Linked DNA regions of Homo sapiens: region 1 is linked to region 2. A link means that fine-mapping ties the variant in region 2 to the expression of a gene that starts in the linked region. Tissue or cell type: whole blood. Region 2 holds a variant in brackets; the other region holds the start of a gene. Each region is shown on its reference strand, or each on the opposite one. Region 1 holds the start of PDGFRB (platelet derived growth factor receptor beta). Region 2 overlaps RUNX3 (RUNX family transcription factor 3).

Region 1 (3,006 bases), not on the chromosome of region 2:
TTAGCGGCGCAGAGGGAAGGAGGGCAGAGCCAGCCTCTACCTGTGTCACCTGGGACAGCTTTCTTCACCCTCTGGAATTCAGTTGCCCTGTGGGTGCAGTAGTGGGAGCAGGGGTGGTAAGCCCACTCTATATGCCCTTCTAAAATAATGCCCTTTGCCATCTGAGGGCTAGGAGTCTGTAACTGGAGATGTCTTCTGATCTGAGAAGCTGAGGGTGGAAGAAGAGACCCAGCTGGGGGAACTGGAGGAGTCTTGGCAGACCCTGGTAGGAAAGGAGAGCCAGAGAATGGAAATGGAACAAAACGGATACTTGAAAGTATCTTGTTGAGGCTGGGTGCGGTGGCTCAAGCCTGTAATCCCAGCACTTTGGGAGGCTGAGGTGGGTGGATCATGAAGTCAGGGGTTTGAGACCAGCCTGGCCAACATAGTGAAACCCGGTCTCTACAAAAAATACAAAAATAGCCAGGTGTGGTGGTGTGCGCCTGTAATCCCAGCTACTTGGGAGTCTGAGGCAGGAGAGTCACTTGAACCTGGGAGGCGGAGGTTGCAGTGAGCCTAGACTGCGCCATTGCACTCCAGCCTGGGAGACAGAGCAAGACTCCATCTCAAAAAAAAAAAAAAAAAAAAAAAGAAAGTATCTTGTTGAGTGACTGAATGAAAGAGCCACAGGGGGAACCTAGGAAGAAAGCAGGGCAGGGGGTTCATCTACACTGGAATAGGGGTCTCGGGTGGGGGTCAGATGACTTGTGTCTCTTCCATCATGTGTCTCATGAGACCTAGTTCTGCCCCAGCTCTGCCATTGCTGCGTAAGCTTGGGAAGCTTATTTTGCTCCTCTGGGCCTCAGTGTCCCCATCTATAAAATGGGGCAAATAATCCTCTCCTTGCACCCCAGGGGCTTTGAGACGTGAAAAGGAATGTATCTGTCAATATCCAGAGATATCCAATCTGTGCTGGATGACCTTGACCAAATCACATTCCCTCTCTGTGCCAATTCACCCCTGGGCCTTGGTTTGTCCTTCTGAAAAACGGCTGATCATCTTGGAGGATCTTTCCATCTCCTCCATGTCACCTCTTCTCAGCAGTGCTCTCTGATTCTCTCAGGCTTCCGTTAGGGGTCCTTCTAAATGCACTCTCAGCCTCCTGTCTGCCGACCGGGCACCTGCTTGCCCAATGAATATCTTGCTCACTAGCCTGGTGCTTCTGAGGTCAGGACCACGTCTTGCTACTGTCCCCTGCACCCAGTACAGTGTTAGAATGTAGTAAATGCTCAGTATGCTTGTTCAATGAATGAAGGTTGACTGAATCAACCACAGAGATGATCAGAGTCTCCTTTACAGATGGGGAAACTGAGGCACTGAGAAATGATCTCCCTGGGTGCCATGGCAAGGGGAGGCCGCCACCCGACATGGGCATCGGGAAAGTGGGGCCGAGGCCACTCTTTGACAAAAGTGACTCAGCAGCTGGCGGCTGGCGTGGGCTGTGGAATTTCTAAGCATCCCCTCACATCCTGAGCGAACGGGCGATGGGAGGGAGTAAGCAGAGTGAAAAGAAGAAAAACAAGAAACTTGGGGGAAAAGAAAGAGAGAGGGGGAAAAAAACTGAAATTGAAAACAGACGCACGCGTCCACCCTCCCTGCCCCGCCGCCCCCCCTTCTCCCAGCTGGGCCAATCAGAAGCCACCCTGCAGCCTTTCCCCCAAAGTGGCGGGGGAAGTGGGGGGGCATGGAAGCCCATAGTGGTGTGAGCTCCTGAGGCTGCCAGCAGCCAGCAGTGACTGCCCGCCCTATCTGGGACCCAGGATCGCTCTGTGAGCAACTTGGAGCCAGAGAGGAGATCAACAAGGAGGAGGAGAGAGCCGGCCCCTCAGCCCTGCTGCCCAGCAGCAGCCTGTGCTCGCCCTGCCCAACGCAGACAGCCAGACCCAGGGCGGCCCCTCTGGCGGCTCTGCTCCTCCCGAAGGATGCTTGGGGAGTGAGGCGAAGCTGGGCCGCTCCTCTCCCCTACAGCAGCCCCCTTCCTCCATCCCTCTGTTCTCCTGAGCCTTCAGGAGCCTGCACCAGTCCTGCCTGTCCTTCTACTCAGCTGTTACCCACTCTGGGACCAGCAGTCTTTCTGATAACTGGGAGAGGGCAGTAAGGAGGACTTCCTGGAGGGGGTGACTGTCCAGAGCCTGGAACTGTGCCCACACCAGAAGCCATCAGCAGCAAGGTAAGTGCTGGAAAAAGTGGGAACCCCAGCCCCATGCCCTGTCCCTTTGCCCTAACCTGCATCTCTTCGAGTAGGTAAAAAAAAAAAAAAAAAAAAAAAGGGAAGATATTTTTAACAAAACAAGATGAGAGGAGGCTGGGAGACTGTGGGTGATGTCAGGGATGGAGGAGCCAGTTTTCTCCTTTCCCCTGCTCTGGGGTGAGTGGCCTCCACCTCATCATCCCTGCTGCTCCTGCCTTCATCAAACAATCCTCAGGGGTTTCTGGGTGCTGACTGGGGGCCTCCAAAGCACAGCACAGTCAATGGGGAGTGGGGAGAGCTGGGAAGAGCGGGAGAGGGGAATTGGGAGAAGGTAGGCAGGGTACACAGAAAGCAGGGGACTGGGGACCTCAGGACCATAGCCGCTGTTCCTTGGCCCAAGCCTTGTTTCTAAGAATCAGTCTGGCTTTAGGCCAGTCAGCCGCCAGGCAACCTCTGGGGATTTAAATGGATTTGCAAATTTTCTAGATTCTTAAGATATCCTTCTAAACCCCCAGCAGCTAGAAAAGTTTGAGGGCTAGGAAAGTTCGAGGGTGATGGGCGGCCATGGCAACCCCCTAGCGGTCATGCTGCTGGGTCTGGGGGCTGGGACCTGGCTGTCAGATCTGGGGGCTCCTCTGTGAAGAAGGGGTCAGCCACTGGGCCATTTCCTTTGGTCCCAGGCAGCTGCTCAGGCCTCCTCGTTGTCTCCCTCCTTCTGGACTCTACCCCTTCTCCATGCCATTCTAAAGCATAAATCCAATCACACCACCTCCCTG
Region 2 (2,500 bases):
CTGTGTGTCTTCTGCTTGACCTTGAGCTCACTGGCTGTCCAGAGCCTCAGTTTTTTCACCCATATGATAGGATGGTGGCAGACATTACTCAAGGGGATGCTGCCAGGCGAAACAAGATGGTGCTTGTCAGCTGCTTAGACGCTGCCGTGGAGGAAGCACCCAGCAAGCATCTGCTGCCGTTTTGATGATTTCCACTCCTGCTGGCGACTGCTTTAAAGGACAGCCCTAGCCTGCAGAGGTGTGATGGGGATCTACTGTGGGAGAAGGGGGGCTTCCTGGAGGAGGGGCTCCTGGACTGGGCTTCACAGGACAGAAAGCATTGCTGGCAGAGGCTGTCCTGAGCTGAGGCTCTGAAGAGTGGGGGGCAGAGAATATTCAAGAAATACTGGGAACAGCAGCAGCAGGAAGAAGTGGTAGTGGGTGGGCCCTGGGGCCAGCAGCCCTGCCTTCTTTTCTTTCTGGGGCCCCTCTGACCAGCGGCTGATCTTTGCTACCTTAAATCAGGGACTTTCAAAAGGAAGGGGCCTCAGTGAGCAGACTGTGCAGAGGGGAAACTGAGGCGTAGCAGGACTGGGCCCAAGGTGACGGAGTGGGTTAGAGCCAGAGCTCCCCACGCAGCTCTTGCTCTGGGTAACCGAATGAAAGAGGCTTTTTCTGAAGACCATCTTCTTTCCTCAGGCACTGGAACTTCTGTCCTATTCCCAGTGTGAGAGCCCTGGCCCTGTGGCTCTGAGACTCTCTGGCGCCCTGGCCACGTGGGGCCGCCTTGGCTCCCCTCTCCCCTCCCTGGCAGTGGCTCCAGCGTTCCACAGTAACAAGGAAGCTATTTCCGAAGTGCTGTTGGACTCCCCTCCTCCGGGAAGTCTGCCCTACGGAGGGCAAGGGAGCATGTGGTGGGAGCGTGGGTTCCGGGGTCAGATTACCTGACCCACAGCCTGGGTCCCGGAACAGGCGCTCAGCGTCGGTCTCATGGTGAAGCCTCGGTGGCCCCGTCTAAACAATGGGAACAAAAGGGAAAGTGTCAGGAAAAGAGCCCTGGGCTTGGAGTCGGGGGATCCGGGTGTGAATCCTGCCTTGCTGCTCAGGCTCTGTGTTCCTCACACGACTTCAGCATCCTGGCCTCCACACCCCGGTCTCCAGCATGGGGATGATAGTTCTGCTTCCTTTGGGCATGAGCAGAGATAAAAGCGATGGTCATGATGGTGGTGACCCACGTGACTGGAAAGTGTCCACACCTTAGGCCAGCACCTCAACCCACAAAGACAGT[G/A]TGATGGGGACACCGCAGCTCGGGGTGGGGGAAAGGAGTGTGACTTGAGTGAGGCCACCAGACTGCAAGTGACAGGACCCGTCCTCGAACCCAGGCTGGCTGTCAACCCCGCCCTCTTCCGCCAGGCCGCAGGAGTAACTGTAAACACTCTTTGTACATGGTGTGACTCAGAAACAGGGGACTTTATTCTCCTGTGACGAAAGTAACAAGGCCTGAGGTTTTGCACCAGCCCTATTGGCTCCCTTCAAGCTTGTGGCTGACTAAAACACCCAGATCCTTTGCACTCAGGCTGTTGTCGGATCAGTCTGTGGTCCCCACGTCCACCCGGCAGGCTTCATGCCTGTTAAGATTCTTCTGCTCACTTGTCCCCCAGCTCATCCACATCTCCCTGCCATTTCCAGTGGCCTCAGGAGCAAGGACAACATTTCCTCCAAGGCCTGTTAGGGCTGAGGACTCGGTCTGGAATTGGAAGCTCTGGCCGTACTGGGCCTGCCCTCCTCAGGGTAGCAGTCAGGTGCTTTCCACAAGGCATCTCCTCCCCATCCGCTCCAGGCCCCACCCATCCCACTTGCCTCGTTCACGTGACTTGCCCCATCCCCATGGGCATCTGAGTTTGCAGCCCCAGCTCCAGCTAAACTCGCCCCCAGCCCATGTTTTCCCCTTTGTTGCCAAGGGCCCTGGGAGGCAGCAGTGGGGGCCTGGCCAGAGACCAAATGGTCTTATTCCTGCCACCAAGTGTCCCATGGATTCCTGGTCTGGGGCCTCATTGGAGGAGAAGGTGGGGCTCCCTGGTTCTTGGTGACTGGCTGAGCCCCTGTGGCTCCCAGGCCCCCTGCTTTCTTTCTGAGGCTCCCAGATACCTGTTTGAGCTTCCAACAGGGATGCGTAGGGAGCTTGGGGGCCTACAAGTACCAGAATCCATTGCGTTCCCATTCTGAAAATCAGAAATCAGGCCCATGCGAGGCCTCGGGCTCTGTCCCCTCATGCCCTACAGTGGTCGACAGGCTTTTCCCACTTTTCGAGTCCCCAGCAATCACTTGTTCAGGCCCCAAGAAGCGCAGTGAGTTCTGTTTTACCTCCCACCTACATCTTGCCTCTTCTCCCTCTGCCAAACTAGAAAACGCACATGTCATTCTAGACCCAAGGCCTTAGGCAAACCTTCTCCTCCCCCTTACCCCCTCCCACATTTTTTTTTTTTTTTTTTTTTGAGATGGAATCTTGCTCTGTCACCTA

Evidence for each region.
Region 1: it holds the start of PDGFRB, and the variant in region 2 is fine-mapped to the expression of PDGFRB in whole blood (TOPMed, PIP 0.91).

Annotation. Positions count from the first base shown.
Region 1 is chr5:150,154,600-150,157,605 of GRCh38, reverse strand. PDGFRB (platelet derived growth factor receptor beta) reads left to right here and starts at 1,761. Exons shown (of 23, transcript NM_002609.4): 1 at 1,761-2,209.
Region 2 is chr1:24,910,263-24,912,762 of GRCh38, reverse strand. The region is part of intron 3 of RUNX3 (RUNX family transcription factor 3); the gene reads left to right. Among named protein-coding and RNA genes, the nearest start is that of MIR6731, 7.9 kb to the left of the region's middle. The variant G/A (reference allele first, on the strand shown) is at 1,268.